Linked DNA regions of Homo sapiens: all the other regions are linked to region 3. The links come from fine-mapping of genetic effects on gene expression. A gene starts in region 3. Each other region holds a variant in brackets. All regions are shown on one strand. Distances are from middle to middle.

Region 1 (6,280 bases), 35 kb after region 3:
GGTACGTCTAGCTCCAGCCTGTGACCCTCTGGAGGACCAGTTCTTCGGCCTCATTTTCCTCCCCTTCAAGCTCCTGGACACCATCCCTTCCCCATGCCAGCTCTTCCCCATGAAGAGCGCAGGAAGAACCCCCTCAGACCCACTTTCTCACCTGCCCAGTCCACGCCCAGAAGGCCATCTCCTCAGATGATCCCAACACATCCCTGGCCTCAGGCCAAGAGGAAGCCTCATTTCACAGTCTAAGAAATGGAAGCCTCACAGGACACCGAGGTCTCCCCAAGACCAGCCACAAGTCTTTCTGCTGGCCTAGAGGGCTGGCCAGGAGGGAGTGAAGGGAATTGACCCTGGGGAGTGGGCAGGTGAGAGATGGGTGGCCAGGACAAGGGTGGCATTGCCCTCTGGGGGCAGGTGGAGCTGGGGCAGCTAAAAAATGGGGTGGCATCCCTAAAAAACAGACGAGGACACAGCAGCCAGGAGGGCTCCCTGGCCCAGGGGCATTTGCACAAAAGTCTAAGCCGACGGCCAGCACTGGAGGCTTTATTGGTTCTGTCTAGTCATTTCTCTGGGATTGTGGGGGCTGACAGCTTAAAATGGATTTTCACCAATAATGGATTCTCTTTCTCTTTTCCTGGCGGCACTGAGCTGCAACACAAAAGAGAGAGTGTCACTTGGGCCCCAGAGGGTGGTTGAAGGAGAGGGGTGAGCCCAGAGGCCCCTCTGAAGAGGTCGCTGGGGGTAAGGGGTCTTCTGCTGCTGCCCGCGTCTGGGCAGCTGAGATTACATTCTGTGTCCATTCACTACCAGAAAGCAAGGTGTACTGGAGAGCCCTGCACCCTCATTCTCCCCTCAAGAAAAGTGTCCTGGACCCCAGGGTTGGGGCCAACAGGCTTTCAACAGGGCAGACCCCAGCCTGAGCATTCCCAACCTTGGTGAGGCCCGACCCCCAGGGTGGAAAGCCGCCTAATGCCAGTGTGGTCCTTCCCATTTTGAACCCAGGCCCCTGTGCCCACCCTCCTTGGTCCCCAGGCCTCCTCCAGCCCTCGCCTTGGCTCTGCGCCTCAGTCCACTGGAACCTCGTTCCAACAGCCTTTATGAGGTCACTGAGGTGGAGGCGTCACAGCCCACCACATCCTGCTCCCAGGCCCTCATTCCACTGTTCCCCACCCCTACCCAGCTGTGTGAGGACCCCTGCCACGTTCTAGCACAGCCCCTCTATGGGAGCTGCGGGGCTGGCCTCACTCACTCTTCCTTGCTTCCCTGCAGCAGAGGGGACGTGGCTGGTGGCTGGAGAAGCTGGATTTGCCCTTTGATGGTGGCCCTCTTGATCCCCGGCTTGCTGAAGTCAAAGTAAGATTGAGCGAAGTTCTTGTCTTCCTGACTCCAAGATTTCAGTGGTGCTCTGGCTTCGCGTGGTTTCTCTGGCAGGGTCTCTGCGTGATTTTCTGGCTCTCGCTCCTCCACAGTGGTCAGGAGGGGCTCTGTGGAAGGCTCCAGAGCCTCCTGGGGTGGAGCTTTCATCATGTGTTCCAAACTGGGCAGGTCCATCCTGCTGGAGGAGGCCATGGCCAGGGAAGATGCAAAGGTGATTAGCTCTGTCAGGTCAATGGGTGGCGGGAGATCTGAGGACAGGAGGGGGCTTGGTGCCTGGGAGCTTGTGGTTGGAGGAGCTGAGTGGGCATCAGGGATCTGGAGCTGCTCCTCGGAGCACAGGGCGTTGGTGGGGATGGCCTCCCGGAGCGGGGATCTGATGGGCTGGCCTGCGCTGCCATTGTTGAGCTGCATGTTGATGGCCCGCTGCAGGCTGTGCTCTGAGGCCTGGATGAGCTTGTTTGCCCAGAAGAGGTGCTTGGAGGTCTGCGCACTGATGGAGTGATGGCAGGCAGACACGTGGTTCTCCTCCGTGAAACTCCGGCAGTTTGAATTCAGACTCCACGGTCTGAAGGTCTGTGGCGTGGGCAGCCCCATGTTGGAGTGGACGGACTCTATCTTGCATACCAGCTGCATGGGTTCTTCAAAGTCAGACTCCTCGTTCGAGTTGGCTTCCGTGTCCAGCTCAGCTTCAAGCTTGAGGGCTGGGTATAGCTCTGACTCCAGTAAAGCCGGCACCTGTCCGATCTCCAGTTCTGGGTCTGGGTCTGGGTCTGGGTCCAGGTCCAGGTCCACTTGGAGTTGGGGCTTCTGCTCTAGCATGTCTGCCTCCAGCTGAAATGTTTCAACTCAAAGCTGAGGAGGCAGGAGCGGGAGGTCCTGCCCCTGAGGCCCTCCCTGGCACCGAGTCCCTGCCCCACCCCTGCCCTGGGTCCTGCTGTCTTCCCCCCGCCCCCTAACCCCATGCCTGCCTCCTCTCAGAGACCTGCCCGGTGAGGGGGTGTGTGTGTGGGTGTACCCACACCGGCCTGGTACTAGGGTCCCAGGATTGTCAAGGGTAGGGGCTGGTGGGGACTTAGGGAAGAGCCCTGCCGCTTGCCTACCACCTCCCCGTAAGAGGACACTCCCATTTTTACCTCCTGTTCCTCTTGTATCTGGTGTTGACTTAAGTCATCTCTAAGACAGAAGAAGACAGAGTGGGTGATGGGGATCTGTGGGGCTTCAGCGGGAAGGGGGTTTCTGGGGCCCTCAAAGCCCTCTGCCTTGTAACAGAAGCTGGCACGATGCACCTCCCGCCGACCACCCCGCCACCAGCTCATCCACTCCCCTGCTGTCCCACTCCACTGCCACCAGGAAGTCTGCGGTTGTATTCTGAAACTTTAGTGAGTTTAGGAAGCTGCTTGCCAACTCATGCCCCACCCCCAAAGAGGAATCCAGTTGGTTGGAGGTAAGGCCCAGGAATCTCATTTTTATCAAGCACTGCAGGTGAGCTGGGGCAACTCACTTCGAGGATTAGTGCCCAGAACACTAGTCCCCAGCAGGGGAGCCCCAGAGCAATGTCCTCCCACCCACCTGCCCACTCTTTCTTCAAGTGCCTGCCCACCCCCGCCTTGAGCAGCTCTGTCCTCAGCAAGCCAGGCAGCTCTGAGGGGTCAGGTCCTATCCTGTCCCTGGGTGTGCCCCACCACCCCTCAGTCTTCCTCTCATGCCAGGGGCTGAGGGCATAAACAGAAGTGGGAGGATAGGCGCCCCACGCCCTCCCCAGCCTTTTGGCCTGGACACTGGCCCCGGGGAGGTTTTGGAAATGGCAGAAGGGAGGGAGATCCTAGGCTGGGGGATCCTAGGCTGGGGGTGAGGTCGGAGGTCCTGGAGGGCTCGGGGGAGGCCCTACGTTGATTGAGGATGGTTCTCACCGCATCTCTGCAACCTCCACTGACCCTTTGCCGCAGCATGGAAATCCATGGGCACCTGACAGGGGAAAGGAGGTGAGGGCAGGGAGCTGCAGGGTAGAGGACAGTCCCAGAGGGATTCCGGAGCCAGCCCCCT[T/C]TTCCTGCCCTTCTTTTCTCTCTTCCCGGCTGCTATTCCCCCTCACCGTCCTGCCCCGCTCTCCTTGTTCCCGAGCCGGTCGCCATTCCTATCCTCCAGTCCTGCTCCCTCCACTCTCCGTCTGTGCCTTGCCTCCTCGGAGGCTCCCGGTTCCATCTCCATCCCCCAAAACCGTGACTGCTAACAGTACCCTGAACATGACAGAGCGCTTCCATAGCCTGGTCACTTTACCTGCTTTATCTCACTGATTCAACACAAAAAATTAGGACAGGTCCATTTGCCCAAGGTCCCCCAGCTGAACATAGCTGAAGTGATGACTTGAATGCAGGCTTGACTCAGGAAACTCTTAACTCCCTGCCCCCACCGGCTACTCCCAGGACCCTGTAACTGCGTGGAGTCCCAATAACGCCCCATGTGAACCTCCCCCATCTCCCCATTCCTGCTCCTCTGCCGGCTTCCTCTCCTCTCTCTGGGTCATCCATCACTGACTCCAGGCCAAGGCCTGCACCCCAGGTGTGTAATCTGAGGTGGTGCTAGCACCTATCCGACGATTTATGAGCTCAGATCACCCTCTGCAGGGGAGACTGACTCCTTGGGAACGTCCGCAACCCCAAACCCCTCCCTGGAGGCTTGTATCTTTTACTGCAGAAGCTGTTTCTTCACCCTGTGGGAGTGGGAAGCACCAGGCTGCCCTGTTCTCTGCTACCCAGGGCCATGCATAGGGGTTGATGGTGGGGCCATCATGACAACCCTGCCATCATGCAAGGTGGGTCCCCATCAGCCTGGGGTATGGCAGGAAGTGACAGCCCTGGCTCTGGCTGGGAAGAATCGCTCCCAGGATCATATTGGAAGGATGAGAATGTACTGCGGTCTCTTCCTAGAGATGTAGTGGCTGGAGGGAGGGGTCCTTGCATGGCTGGTCTTGGGATTGGGACCATCTGCTTCAGCCTGGTCTTGGGGGATGTATCAGCAGAGTGGCCGGCTCAATGATCTCTTCAGAACCCTCCACCTCCTTGACCACTATGCTTCCCTGGCTTCCTCACGTGTCTCTCTTCTCCCTCTCCAACTCCCCCTGTCCCAGGTCCTGCTGTTCCCCCAGGCTTCTGACCTCAGGGCCTTTGCTCCCTTTACAGAATTTCCCTGGGCAGTTTAATCAACACCCACAGCCTCAACCCCTCCATAAACGGCAGCTGGGTATGGACAGGAGAAGAAATTACTGTTGTGTGAGCCTCTTAACAGCACTGGGGGCTGGGAGAAAAAGTCAGACATTGACTCAGCTTGGGACCTCGTTGCCTGACTTGAGAATGTTCTATTAGGGATTCAAGTGATATTCTGCAGTATATGAAATAATTGAAATAATTTTTTTTGAGGCAGGGTCTCACTCTGTCACCCACGCTGGAGTGTAGTGGTGTGATCTCGGCTCACTGTAACCTCCGCCTCCTGAGATCAAGCGATTCTCCTGACTCAGCCTCCTGAGCAGCTGGGATTATAGGCATGCGCCACGACGCCCAGCTCACTTTTTGTATTTTTAGTAGAGATGGGGTTTCACCATTTTGGCCAGGCTGATCTCAAACTCCTGGCCTCAAATGATCTGCCTGCCTCGGCCTCCCAAAGTGCTGGGATTACAGGCATGAGCCACCGTGCCTGGCCGAAATAATTTCAATTTCCAGTGGTTTGTTGCTAGTATACAGAAATATATCCATCTTTTGTATCCTGCAACTATACTAAAATCTTATTTGTTCTCATAGCTTTTTTTTTCTTTTAGATTCTATCGGATTTTCTACATAGACAATAATGTGTGTGAGTCAAGACACTTTTACTTCTTCCCTCCCAATCTGGTTCCTCTTATTTTCTTTACTTGCCTAATTGCACTGGGGACAATCTCCATACAATGTTGAGTAGGAGTGCGTGTGTACATCCTCGCTTCGTTCTGAGCTTAGGGGAAAGTGTTTAGCCTTTCACCATTAAGGATGATGCTAGCTGTAGGTTTCTTCATGATGCCTTTCATTAGCTTGGGCATCTTTGTGAAGTTTCGTCTCTTAGATTGCTTAGTTTTAATTAGGAATGGATGCTGGATTTTGCCTAATGCTTTTTCTGCATTTATTGAGATGATCATATGGTTTTTCTTTAATATGATATTATATATGTTATACATAACATACGTTATAATACATTAACATATGAGTAATGTTATATTATTTGAGTGATAATTCTTTTATATTTTTATATTCTGTTTATGGTAAAATACATTGTTTTTTTTGAGACAGGGTCTCACTCTGTTGCCCAGGCTGGAGTTCAGTGGCGCAATTTCAGCAACCTCAACCTCCCTGTCTCAAGTGATCCTTCCACCTCACCTCTGGAGTAGCTGGGACTACACGTGTTCACCACCACCCCCAGCTAATTTTTGTATTTTTTGTAGAGATGGGTCTTGTTATATTGCCCAGGCTGGTCTTGAACTCCTGGGCTCAAGCTATCCACCTGCCGTGGCCTCCCAAAGTGCTAGATTATAGGTGTGAGCTACCATGCCCAGCTATAAATTTATTTTTTAAAATGTTAAATCAGCCTTGCGTTACTGGGATAAACCTCATTTGGTTGTGATATATTACCCTTTTTCTATGTTGTTGAATCTGATTGGCTTTTTTTCAGAATTTTCACATGCATATTCATGAGGGATATCGGTGTATAATTTTCTTTTCTTGTAATGTCTTTGTTAGGTTTTGATAGGGAGGATGGCTTCGGCCCGGGAGGCAGACGTTGCAGTGAGCCGAGATGGTGCCATTGCACTCCAGCCTGGGTGACAGAGCAAGACTCTGTCTCAAAAAAAAAAAAAAAAGGAGATGAGGTCTCAGTATGTTGCCCAGGCTGG
Region 2 (6,280 bases), 54 kb after region 3:
GCCTGTAATTCCAGCACTTTGGGAGGCTGAGTGGGGCGGATCACCTAAGGTCTGGAGTTTGAGACTGGCCTGGCCAATATGGCAAAACCCCGTCCCTACTAAAAATACAAAAATTAGCTGGGCATGGTGGAAGGCGCCTGTAATCCCAGCTACTCAGGAGGCTGAGGCAGGAGAATTACTTGAACCCGGGAGGAGGAGGTTGCAGTGAGCTGAGATTGTGCCACTGCACTCCAGCCTGGGTGACAGAGTGAGACTCTGTCTCAATGAAAACAACAAAAAAATTTGTGATTCTCTCTCTGGGTAAGAGACATGGTGAGAATTCTGTTCTCTGCCTCTTTTATATGCTTAACTCTATACTTCACAGTGGGCATGGATTATTTCAATAATCAGAGGAGTTAAAGAAAGATATTTCACTGACTTTAGAGCCCAGGCCCCTTGGTCAGCCTGCCCACTGTGCTTCCAGCCAACCGTGCTCAGAGGCGCAGGAGAGCTGGGGTCACAGGCTGGCAGTGCACTCCCCTGCAAAGGCCAGACAAGAGGTAGGAGCCACGGGGACTCCAAGGCAGAAGGCCTGGGACCTACGGAGAGTCAACCAGCCTTTCCCTTCTCTTCCCTGTGTACAGGAGCATCGACAATGAGCACCTGACATCTATTATCACATTTACGCGTAACAAAGAAACCCCTGATAATCATCCAGGCTGGTTGCGGGGCTTAAACACACAGGTGGACCTAAGTGTTCACACCTCAATTCCCATTCTGGAAAGCATGGAAGGCATTTGGCGAATGAATGCATTGGGGGGCACGGCAGTTGGTGGGGGGCCTTACCTGTGAGCAAGGACTTTCCCAGGCCATCAGGTTGAAGACACACAGCATGGCCAAAGTCACAGAGGGCTGCGTGGCTCCCATCGCTGGACAGGAGCACGTTGTCAGCTGCCAGGCCGCCCCGGGGAGGAAGAGGAACAGGTGAGTCATGCCGGGTCCCAGCCCACCCTGGCTCGGTTTGGCCTGCCCTCCAGTGATGTAATTTTCTGGCTGACCCTACGTGGCAGCTGCTGCTTCTGATTAGTTTCATTAATCGTGGAGGAAGGGAGGAGGGTATCAATTCAGGCTAGAGGTAGGCAGGATCTCTGAGGGCAAAGGGACAGGAGCAGGGTTTACTCGGGAACGCTGCCACTCTGCTCGCCTGCGCCGACCCCATACCAGGGGTCACCAGTGGGTGGGAGCTTGACCTTCGGTTCTCTGTGGCCACCGTCTACCAGAAACTACAGTGCTTGGCTAAGGGGTTGGAGAACATCATTCCCCTTCCTACAGGCACAGTCCTGTCAGCCTGACTCAGGGCCTGCTACTGGGGATGACCAGGCTAGCCCAGAACTGAGAGGAGATCAGACAGGATGGTGTGAGAGAAGAGCCTGCTGGGGATCAGGGCCGTGGGGCCTGGGCCTTACCTTTGACGTCCCCATGCAGAATCCTTCGTGAGTGGAGGTATTCCAGACCCTCCAGGGCCTGGCCCAGGTAGTACAGGGCCCGGTCCTCTGGGAGACAGCCCTGCTCCTTGACCAGCTGGCCCAGGGAGCCACCTAGGAGACCAAAGGCCAGGCTATACATGGGACTTGCCCGAGCCTCCATGCCAGCCAAGGGCAAGAGCACAGGGCAGGCAGTGGAAAGCAGGGTCACAGGGTCAAGAGGTTAACAATGGATAGATCAGTGACCAAGGCCAACTTGGGCAAGACTCAGGGGGGAACTCTTGGCCCTGAATTTGGAGAAAGAGTGGGACCTGGCTCCTTACCTTCCAGCAGCTCCATGAAGATGTTGACCCAAGGCCCTTCTCTCACAGCTCCATACAAAGGGACAATTCTGGGTGAGGTCAATCCTGCACATGCCATCAGCTCCTCTGCCCGAAATACTTCCAGCCGCACCTGCAAGGGCCCAGAGGCAGCTGTTAAGACAGGGTGAGGGGACCAGAGCTGGGTCCCTGGCATCCTGTCAGCACCCTAGTGCTCCACACACAGAGGCTGCTGCTGTTTCCAGTGGTGATGCAGGGGCCTGGGGGGCCTGCTGGACCCTCAGAGGCTAAATTGTGTATCCCGTGCCCTTGGTATCAGGAGCAACTTCTTGTACTTAATTAAAGTTCTGGAGTGCTGCCTGTGTGCAAAAACAGCCACATAAAAACTACATCCGCACCGGGCGCAGTGGCTCATGCCTATAATCCCAGCACTTTGGGAGGCCGAGGCGGGTGGATCACGAGGTCAGGAGATCGAGACCATCCTGGCTAACACAGTGAAACCCCGTCTCTACTAAAAAATACAAAAAAATTAGCTGGGCGTGGCGGCGGGTGCCTGTAGTCCCAGCTACTCGGGAGGCTGAGGCAGGAGAATGGCGTGAACCCAGGAGGCGGAGCTTGCAGTGAGCTGAGATTGCGCCAGTGCACTCCAGCCTGGGCAACAAAGTGAGACTCCGTCTCAAAAAAAAAAAATTAAAAAAACAAAACAAAACACTACATTCCAGCCGGGCGCGGTGGCTCATGGCTGTAATCTCAGCACTTTGGGAGGCTGAGGCGGGTGGATCAAGGAGATCGAGGTCGGGAGATCAAGACCATCTTGGCCAACATGGCGAAACCCTGTCTCTACTAAAAATACAAAAATTAGCTGGGTGTGGTGGCACGTGGCTGTAATCCCAGCTACTTGGGAGGCTGAGGCAGGAGAATCACTTGAACCTGGGAGTCGGAGGTTGCAATGAGCCAAGGTCGCAATAAGCCGAGGTCGCACCACTGCGCTCCAGTCTGGCGACAGAGTGAGACTCCATCTCAAAAAAAAAAAACAAAAAAAAACCCACAAAAAAACAAACAAAAAAACAAAAAACCCCCTACATTCGTCATCCTGGCTGCTGGCACGCTGTCCGCCCTCAAATCTGCCAAACGCAGAACATTTTTTCCTCCAGCTAAATTTCTGGGCAATTTCTAGGATGTGGGACCTTTTGCTTATCAACATCCATGTCTACTCTCAGAAGCTGGGTTTTTGACTTATCTGACTGTCAAGAACCAAGATTTGGACTCCATCGGGTGCATTTTTTTTTCTTTTCTTTTCTTTTTTTTTTTTTTTTTTGAGACAGAGGTCTTGCTCTGTCGCCCAGGCTGGAGTACAGTGACGTGATCTCTATTCATTGCAACCTCTGCCTCCCGGGTTCAAGCAATTCTCCTGCCTCAGCCTCCCGAGTAGCTGGGACTACAAGTGTGCGCCACCAGGCCCAGATAATTTTTGTATTTTTTAGTAGAGACGGGGTTTCACCATGCTGGCCAGGCTGGTCTCAAACTCCTAACCTTGTGATTTGCCTGCGTTGGCCTCCCAAAGTGCTAGGATTACAGGCGTGAGCCACCATGCCCGGCCTCAACACTTTTCTTTCCCGGAGGACTAAAACATCCACATAGACAGAGCAGTGTTTATTCTGTTTGCAGCTGTCTCCCAGCATCTGGGAACTTAAGGAGGCTTCTGAGGAGGCTTCTGGGGAGTGGCCAAGGCCACTCCCACTG[C/A]CAAATGGCAGGTCCGGGATCATCCACTCCTTTCTGCAGGGACCAGCAACTTGGTGGGAGGAAATAGGCCTTGGATATAAACATCTTGGGCTTAGATCCTGGCTCCGCCTTTTAAAACAAGGCAGCAGACTTCCCATCCACATATTTCCACATGCAAACAGCAGGGACGGTGGTATCTGCTCCTGGGTAGAGCAAGGATTTGGAAGGATGGTAACTGACACCAGGCCTGGCAACCAGTGGGCACTCAGGAAGTGCTAGCTCCCCAATTCCTCCAGCTCACATCAGAGAAGCTGATACTTAGACTGACTTAGACCTTTTTTTTTTTTGAGACAGAGTCTCGCTGTGTCGCCCAGGCTGGAGTGCAGTGGCGCAATCTCAGCTAATTACAACCTCCGCCTCCTGGGTTCAAGCAATTCTCCTGCCTCAGCCTCCCCAGTAGCTGGGATTACAGGCACCTGCCACTATGCACAGCTAATTTTTCATATTTTTAGTAGAGGCAGGGTTTCACCATGTTGGTCAGGCTGGTCTTAAACTCCTGACCTCAGGTGATCCGCCTACCTTGGCCTCCCAAAGTGCTGGGATTACAGGCGTGAGCCACTGTGCCCGGCCTCTTAGACTTCTTTTTTTTTTTTTTTTTTTTTTTGAGACAGAGTCTCGCTCTGTCACCAGGCTGGAGTGCAGTGGTGTGATATCTCAGCTCACTGCAACCTCCGCCTCCTGGGTTCAAGCGATTCTTGTGCCTCAGCCTCCTGAGTAGCTGGGATTACAGGCACGTGCCACCACATCCAGCTAATTTTTGTATTTTTAGTAGAGACAGAGTTTCACCACGTTGGCCAGGCTGGTCTTGAACTCCTGGCCTCATGATCCGCCCACCTCAGCCTCCCAAAGTGCTGGGATTACAGGCGTGAGCCACTGCGCACGGCCTCTTAGGCTTCTTCTTCTTTTTTTTAATTTTATTTATTATTATACTTTAAGTTTTAGGGTACATGTGCACAATGTGCAGGTTTGTTACATATGTATACATGTGCCATGTTGGTGTGCTGCACCCATTAACTTGTCATTTAGCATTAGGTATATCTCCTAATGCTATTCCTCCCCCCTCCCCGCTTAGTAGACTTGTCCTCCTTCCTAGCTGCTGATGGTTCTCAAGTAAGCCTTGAGTAGCATCGCCAGGGGGCGCTGGCAGTAACAGAACCAGCTTGGAAGCGATCTTCACAGACTTGCTGACTTGGCAAACAGCCCTGACACTGTGGGGTTTTTGGACTTTTGCCTATCAGTGGAAAATGTCGCCCTTCTGGTTCCCTAATATCTGGTTTGGTTAATCACCTCCCATGAACTTTGACTCTGCCAGTGTTTCCAGCTCTAAAAAGCCTCTGAACCTGAGTTGGAACTAATTCAACAACAGGACTTGTTAGCAAATGTCTTCAGCCTAACCACCCCCAAACTGAGCTGAGGCACCCCGGGGCACTGCAGATAACTCAGAAGGGCGCCAAATGGATATCTGACATTTGAGGGAAACGGCCACCGCAGTATCTGCAGGACACCGCGTGAACTACTCGCTCGAGACAGTTCAGCTTCAAAGTACGATCACGCACGTGACATTCCCTTTGATAATGTATCTCTATGAAGCTATGTTTTTGCAGGTCACTGTGATTAAAAGTACTTCAAGGAGAAAATGTGGGATATGAAGGTGGTGGTGTCCTATCTGATTTCAAGGGTTGAGATGTGCAACAAGGCATACATCCCGTTAATAATCTGGCGGTTTGGAAATGGAAGGACCCTTTTTCTTTCAACTTATGTCACGCTTTTCAAATGGCTACTAAGTTGTTAGGATAAAGACTTATTATTCGACCTCACTGCTTCATAAACAGAACTGTTGGGTATTTGTTTTGGCCTGGGTTGCCCTGAAACAATGACTGAGATATTAACAGGGCTGTGATCCAAAAGAGTTGGGGAAACTTGGCTTTAACTTTGCAGAAATCTGTAAGTCCTCTTAGAGTGTCCCGTCCATGCTAAAAATATTTCCAACCACCCAGACCAAAGAGGTGGGAGGAGATACTTCAAAATACAAGGTGCTTTAGAAGTCGGTGCCAGAGGAGAAAGCAGCCCAGCCTTCCAGGCCAAGCTGGCTGCCCGTCTGGCCACCCCTCCTCTCTGAACTTCCGTGTTCCTCATCCGTAAAATGAGGGGGCTGGACTGCGATGAGGATATTCATGAGAACTAAGATCTAATGCCCACTTATCATTTCCCAGGCACCGGTAAAGCCCTTTCTAAGCATTAGTTATTCAGATCTTACAATAGCCTGTAAGCTGGTGGGATCATTATCCCCATTTTATAGATGAAGAAGCTGAAGCCTGGGCAAGTAATTTGCCCAAGGTCACTGGGTATAAGAGATCACAGCAGCGCTTTTACTCGGGCAAGCCTGACTCCAGAGCTGCCAGCTACTCTGCCTCCTGAAGGCCTTTCCATGCTGAACTTTTTTTTTTTTTTTTTGAGACAAGGTCTCCCTTGGTTGGCCAGGCTGGAGTGCAGTGGCACAATCACAGCTCACTGCAGCCTCGACCTTCCCGGGCTCAAGCGATCCTCCCATCTCAGCCTCCCAAGTAGCTGAGACTATAGGTGCCATGCCCAGCTAATTTTTGTAGAGATGGGGTTTCGCCATATTGCCCAGGCTAGTCTTGAACTCCTAGGCTCAAGTGATTCTCCCACCTCGGCCTCCAACATGTTGAGATTACAAGTGTGAGCCACTGTGCC
Region 3 (6,280 bases):
CTTGGTCTCCCAAAGTGCTAGGATTATAGACGTGAGCCACCGCGCCCGGCCCCTTTTTCCTTTTTTTTTTTTTTTTTTTGAGATGGAGTCTCAGTCGGCCAGGCTGGAGTGCAGTGGCGCCATCTCAGCTCACTGCAACCTCCTCTGCCTCCCGGGTTCAAGCGATTCTCCTGCCTCAGCCTCCTGAGTAGCTGGAACTACAGGCGCGTGCCACCACGCCCGGCTAATTTTTTGTATTTTAAGTAGAGACGGGGTTGTGTTAGCCAGGATGGTCTCGATCTCCTGACCTCGTGATCCGCCCGCCTCCGCCTCCCAAAGTGCTGGGATTACAGGCGTGAGCCACCGCGCCCGGCCTCTCGTTTTCCGTTTTTAAGGAAGCTCCTACTGAGTAATGGTGAAGGGGAGAGAAGAGATCCCTGGGAAAACCTTATCAATCACCTGGGTTCTGAATATTCCCAGTGACTGCACTGAAGGTGACAACAGTCCAGAAATGTCGCCGCTGCGGTGAATCCATCCATCGCCCCTCGAAGCCTTGCCCTATCTTGGCTGTCATACCGTCTACGGCCAGCAGGGGGTAGCACAGATCCACCAATGTGTTAGTCCCAAGCTTCAGTCATCCCTTCTAGGATTTCCTCCTCTGTGGGCCAAGATGGGAAAGATACCTCCTGCCAAGCAAATGAAATTTACTACGTAATAATTGATTCCATCTTCTCATTTTTTTTGTAACTCACAGTTCTGATCAGCATGAGAGAGAGGGAGAATGAATATAGGCTTGCAGAAACAATAATTTTCCACAGAAGAGGTGTTACTTAGCCCAGCTTTATTCCACCAGGCCTTGGGTGAAGAGTGGCTGGCAATGGCTTGAGAAGCCCCCAGGATTGAAGATACAGTCTGATAACTACTGCATTCGTGGCTCCCCGCCTGGCTTGGGTTTCCAGCTGCAGGGCACGCTCCTACCCTTCTCTTTTCCTCTCACAGAAGTAGTTCTGGGCAAGAGGAAGCATGAACAGCTGGTCCCATAGGATGACTTGAAGCAGCCACTCTCCTAGAGAGGTTAAAAGTCTGTCCCTCGCTAGGCTGCAAGCAGCCCAAGGACCAAGGCATTTCTCATCTGCCACAGAATCTGCAGGACCAAGCACAGTGATGGGCATGTAGCTGATGCTAAGTAAAGGTTTATTGTTCAATTGAAAGAGACAGCCATTGAGGAATCAGGGAATCCATTCTTTAAAAAAATGTGTTTTTATTCATTAAAAAAAAAAGTCTTCCAGGCTGGACGGGGTGCCTCATGCCTGTAATCCCAGCACTTTGGGAGGCCGAGGCAGGCGGATCACTTGAGGTCAGGAGTTCGAGACCAGCTTGGTCAACATAGCAAAACCCCGTCTCTACTAAAAATACAAAAATGAGCTGGGTGTGGTGGCACGCACCTGTGGTCCCAGCTACTGAGGAGGCTGAGACTGGATAATTGCTTGGACCTGGGAGGTGGAGGTTGCAGTGAGCTGAGACCGAGCCACTGCACTCCAGCCTGGGCAACAGCGAGAGACTCCATCTTAAAAGAAAAAAAAAAGTCTTCCACGACAGTTATCTTATAGAGACAAGAAGAAGAAGAAAGAAGGAGAAGAAGAGGAGGAGGTCCTAGCTAATCTCAAGGGCAAGGACCCAAGGGCAAGGCTCTGGTCTGTCTGAGAAGGAGAATATGGCAGTGTGCAGGGAATGGATCATTTTCCCTGCATGCCCAAGGAGAATTCTGCTTTGACTCACCTTGGAGGTCCTTGGTCAGGCCACGAAACCAGTGATCACATCTCTCACCCATCTGGGGTGCTGGTGACCTTGGCAGAAGAAAGGCTTAAACCAGGTCAGCCTGGGGGAAGGGGCTGGCTCCTTCCAGGGTCTTCCTCCAGATTAGATGTTAACTCTCCGTCTCTTGCTTAAAGTCTTGTCAGTGGCTCTGAATGTGAGGGCAGAAGGAGGAGGATGCTGTCAGGGGAGGGGACACTAATGGCTCCTGACCTGGCCTAGAGATAATTCGGGGCTCCTTCAGCGGGCCCTCCCTCCTCAGTGCCCTGGAAGTGTAGGGAGGGGTCAGTTGGGGATCCCCACAAATTAAATGGGGAATGAGAGGAGCAACTGAAAGTCTCAAATTCAGGCTATAGATGGGACCCCAGCCCCCCATACTCTCCCGTCCTACATGAGATGGGCAGTGGAGGGCCAGGACAGCAACTCCAAGCCAGTGTAGGTTTTGGAGGTAGACAGTGAGGAGGCTTGCTTCTGTCCTTTGTTAGCTGAGTGCCCTTGGACAGCTTACTTACCTACTCTCAGCCTCAGTTTCCCCATCTCTAAAATAAGGCTACCAATACCTACCTTCTCTGGCCATTGTCAGGATGAATGAAAGAGCTCTGAAAGTATTTCTGTAATTAGCAGACATCAGAGATTGTTATTCTCCAAGGTAAGAGGCCCCCCTAGATCCCTGGCGGTGACAGTGTCAAGATTCTTTTTCCCTCCTCTGCGGTGCCCACTCCTTTTCCAGCCTTGTGGCTGGCTCTCATCCTCCTTTCCGCAACCCCCCACTCCTCCTTGGGACCACCTTGGCGGGCCCAGCTTCTCGCAGCCTGCCATATTCCATAGGTGCCCCCATTCTAAAACCTGTAGGGGTGCCCTGCACAGGCGCACGGTTGGTCGAGGTGGGACAGGTGGCGGGGGTCTCCACTGGCCTGCGTCCGCGCCCCCCACCCTGTTTAGGAGTTCCTGTTTGGAGATGGCTCCCCCTCGTCCTCAGCTCGTCTCTGGGCTAAGCAGGGGAGGAGAGAAATAAAAGGTGGGGGGCCTGGAAGGGGGTTCCCACCTTCTCAGTCCGGGACGCGAGACGGGAACGCAGCCCTGGCGCCCCAACGCTGCACCACCGTGGGTCTCCGAGCCGTGCTCGCAGTCGCTGAGATCCTCGGTGCGGAGAAGATGTGCCCCTCCAATCCCCAGGCCGTGATCCCCTTCACCCAGACCCGGCCAATCCCTCGCCCGAGGCGAGCGGGAGGATGCGGTTCTAGGACCCGGAGGCGCCGCCGAGCGCGCCGCCGCCTCGGCCTCGCCTCGGTGGCCTCCCGCTCCGGCAGGTGAAGCGGCGCCGGCCGCCCCCTCTGCGGCAGGTGAAGCGGCTCGGCAGCCCACTCCCCGCCCGCCATGGTTGCGGGGGTCCCCCGGCCAGCGCCCGCCCCCTCCCTCCAGCCCGCCCCCCTGGGGCTGGGTGCCCGGCGGCGGCGGCGGCGAACTGCGGTTTGCGCGCACGGGGAGCGACAGCAGAAGTTCGAAAATCGCCGAGGGGGGAGCCAGCGCCGCAGCTTCCTGCCCCCGGCCCAGCCCTCTGGCCCCGGCGGCCTGCAGCCTGACTTCCTCCCCCAACCCTGCAGCTCGCCGCCCGGTCCCACGGACGGGGCCGCCCCGATGGGACGCCGCGCTCCGGCCCCTGCGCGCCGCTGAGCCGAGCGCCCCCCGCTGCCGAGACCCCCGCCGCCACCGCCAGCCGCTGCCCCCTCGCCCCCGCCCGGGCCGGGAGCCTCGTCCCCGTCCCCCGGAAAGCTGGATTTCCGAGGCTGGAGGCGCCTGGCCGGCTGGGTGGGGACCACCATGGGCAACGCGGCCGGCAGCGCCGAGCAGCCCGCGGGCCCCGCCGCGCCGCCCCCCAAGCAGCCCGCGCCTCCCAAGCAGCCGATGCCCGCGGCCGGAGAGCTGGAGGAGAGGTTCAACCGCGCCCTGGTGAGTGCGACCCGGAGGCGGGTCGGGCGCGGGCGGGGGGCGGCAGGGGCGCGGCAGGGGCTGGGCGCGCGTCCCCGCCCCCGGGGACTCAGGTGCCGCTTGGAGATCCCCGGTCCGGCAGCTGCCCCCTCCAGGAGGTGGGAGCGACAGTGGCCTTTTTTTCAGAGTGACTTAGCACTCTCCCCCCAAAACTTTCTTCAGTTATCGCCCGGTCTCCCTCCCTAAGACGCCTCCACCCCAGCTGGGTCTTAAGGTCTAAACAAGTATGTCCTGTGAAGAAGTTGGGAGCGGGGCACGCACAGGGGTCCCGGGTCGCCCCCTTCCCCACTGCACGCAGGCCCAGCCACCGGGCGCGGGTCTGGGGCATCTGCCTTTCTGTGTCTGGAGTCAAAGATGAAAGGGTTACAACCTCCCGGGAGCGGGAGACCTGCTGGAGGTGTTGGGTCCTGATTTGTTGGGCGCCTGGGCTGCGGGGAATGGGGTTGTCGGATCATGGCCAGGAGGTATCTGTGTTTCTACCCCGCCATATGTCAGAGCCAGGGTGCCTGTGGGTCTTTATCTTGGGGCATCCTTTCCAAGCCACTGAAGGGAGTAAGATGAGGGAGGGTGGGGTCAGGACGGGTGGGTCGCCCAGGCTAGGGGTGGAGCAAAATCTGGAACCACCCCCCTCTGTGCCTACCTGGGGAATTGGAGCGGGGTCGCTGGGGAATAGGTCTCTGGGAGGGAACCAGCAGCTCAGGCCGAGCCTGGAAACAGTCAACATGTTCAGTGGGGTGGGGGCTCCAGAGCAGACTCAGGGGTCTCCAAGACCCTGCATAAGGCAGAAGTAGGGAGAGGAAGAGCTGCTCACTCTCACTCTCCCCACCCCCGACGCCCTGGCCCTGGCTCCCTCCTCTAACTAATTGCCTGGTGGCCTGCCTGCTGTCAGCCTTCCCTTGCTGGACGCTGGGTGACAGGCAAAATGAGGCTGTGCCTTCTCCCAGATGCATTTCCCAGTCCCTGCAGGTCTGAGGGTGGGGGCTCAACGGAGACACAGGCCGCAGAGGGTTCTGGCTCAGTTGGTGGCCCTCCATCTCCTTGACATCATTTCCCCTCGCCTGGCTGGTCATTAGGCCATACGTGCTAGATCCTCAGCATGGCTCCAGAGGGTCACCTCCTAACAGTTCCTGAAAATGTTGGCTTCTGTCCTCTCCCAAGAGAAGGCTGGGGGGAGTTTGGAGGAGCTATGGGGTGGCGAGGGATCCATCCTTGTGAAGACACCTTGCTTGATTAGAGGAGGGCAGGGACACTGAGGGACGCCTCACACCAGGCTGGCCCCTGACTTCTCCATCTCTCCACCTGCCCTGCTCCCCGCTCCCCAAGCATAGGACTTCACAAAGCTGAGCTGAGCTGAGCAGATGGGGGAGGGGGGAGAATGAGGAGACACAGTCTCTGGGGGCCATCTGGAGAGCCTGCATTGGTGGTGGGTCCTTGGACCCCTGCCAACCTGGTTGGAGGGACATGGGTCTGTCTTTCCGCCAAGTGTGTGTCTATGGTCGCGGGTGTGGGCTCTTGGGGTGAGGTCCTGACCCCAATCTTCTGTTTAGCACGCTGATGGGGAGGAGCCCTGTGAATAATTCAGACCAGGGGAAAATCCACAAGTCAAATGGTGAGGTTCTGATGTGTGTGTAGGACTTGTTTGCCCTGCTTGGATTTGTGGCTGTGATTGGCTGAGTCTGACACTAAATGCCACTGGGAGTCCCTGAGTACCAGGATGTGGAGGGGGGACACCCACAGGTGGGTCAGAGAGGGTGTGCTGGTGGAGAAAGTGGAGGTGCCTAGCAGAAATTTAGGGTAGCAGCACCCACCAGGGCTTACCCCCTACCAGGTGCCCAGGAACCCCAGTGTGTTTATACCTTCTTCCCGGGGTGGCTCAGCCTGTCTTATATCCTGTTGTGGGCAGGTTAAACCCAATCTAAGGACACTTGGCTAAGACCCTGGTTCCTCTCATTCCCCACCAGCAGGGGCATGAGGCTTGCCCCAGGGTGACAACCTTGACCTCTGCCTGAGGCTGCCCAGGGCTAAAGAGTTGGTTCAACCCTCAGGTCTGGCAGTGTGTATCGCAGAGTTGGTCGCTATGTGAACCCCCACCCGAACCACCATGGCCAGAGCTGAGTCCTGTCCTCGGTCAGTGTCTAAGAGGAGAAGAACCTTAGATTGCTGAGGGGAGGGGCCCACCGCCATCAGTGGTCCCCAGTCTCAATGGGAGAAGCACAGTCCTGCCCTCAGGGATGTAGTCCAGCGGCCCCAGGGAACCTCTTCCTTCCCCTTTTGTCCCTGGTGGGGCATAGGATCCTGATACCCCAAACTCTCCTTCCTCTCCTGGCTGTAGGACCTCTCTTGTGGGTGAGGGGTGTCCCCACTTACAGCCAGACAGGAGGTGCAGGGAGCCCTTCTCCCATGCAAGGGTGGGTGGTGGGGGGCTACCTTTCCAAGAAAGCTGTGAAAGAAAGGGGTGCCCCCTGCTTAAAATGGGGGTGGAGAGAAAGAGCAGGTT

The links. PIP is the estimated chance that this variant, and not a neighbour inherited with it, causes the effect.
Region 1: its variant is the best candidate, but not a certain one, in a credible set for the expression of FMNL1-DT in whole blood (INTERVAL, PIP 0.64).
Region 2: its variant is the best candidate, but not a certain one, in a credible set for the expression of FMNL1-DT in whole blood (TOPMed, PIP 0.58).

What each region holds. Positions count from the first base shown.
Region 1 is chr17:45,253,872-45,260,151 of GRCh38, forward strand. It overlaps SPATA32 (spermatogenesis associated 32), which reads right to left. Exons shown (of 5, transcript NM_152343.3): 2 at 3,282-3,336; 3 at 2,505-2,544; 4 at 1,244-2,202; 5 at 522-642. The coding sequence ends at 555. MAP3K14-AS1 (MAP3K14 antisense RNA 1) reads left to right here. Exons shown (of 4, transcript NR_110326.1): 2 at 1,264-1,347. Among named protein-coding and RNA genes, the nearest start is that of SPATA32, 5.1 kb to the right of the region's middle. RefSeq lists an enhancer at 2,031-2,791. The variant T/C (reference allele first, on the strand shown) is at 3,415.
Region 2 is chr17:45,272,678-45,278,957 of GRCh38, forward strand. MAP3K14 (mitogen-activated protein kinase kinase kinase 14) reads right to left here. Exons shown (of 16, transcript NM_003954.5): 7 at 1,787-1,916; 8 at 1,446-1,577; 9 at 826-930. Among named protein-coding and RNA genes, the nearest start is that of SPATA32, 14 kb to the left of the region's middle. RefSeq lists an enhancer at 316-1,290. The variant C/A (reference allele first, on the strand shown) is at 3,527.
Region 3 is chr17:45,218,510-45,224,789 of GRCh38, forward strand. FMNL1-DT (FMNL1 divergent transcript) reads right to left here and starts at 3,256. Exons shown (of 3, transcript NR_147507.1): 1 at 2,840-3,256; 2 at 1,759-1,945. FMNL1 (formin like 1) reads left to right here and starts at 3,376. Exons shown (of 27, transcript NM_005892.4): 1 at 3,376-3,744. The coding sequence starts at 3,616. RefSeq lists silencers at 2,951-3,400, 3,411-3,460, 3,741-3,850, 3,773-4,067 and enhancers at 3,914-4,414, 4,415-4,915, 5,251-5,320, 5,921-5,970.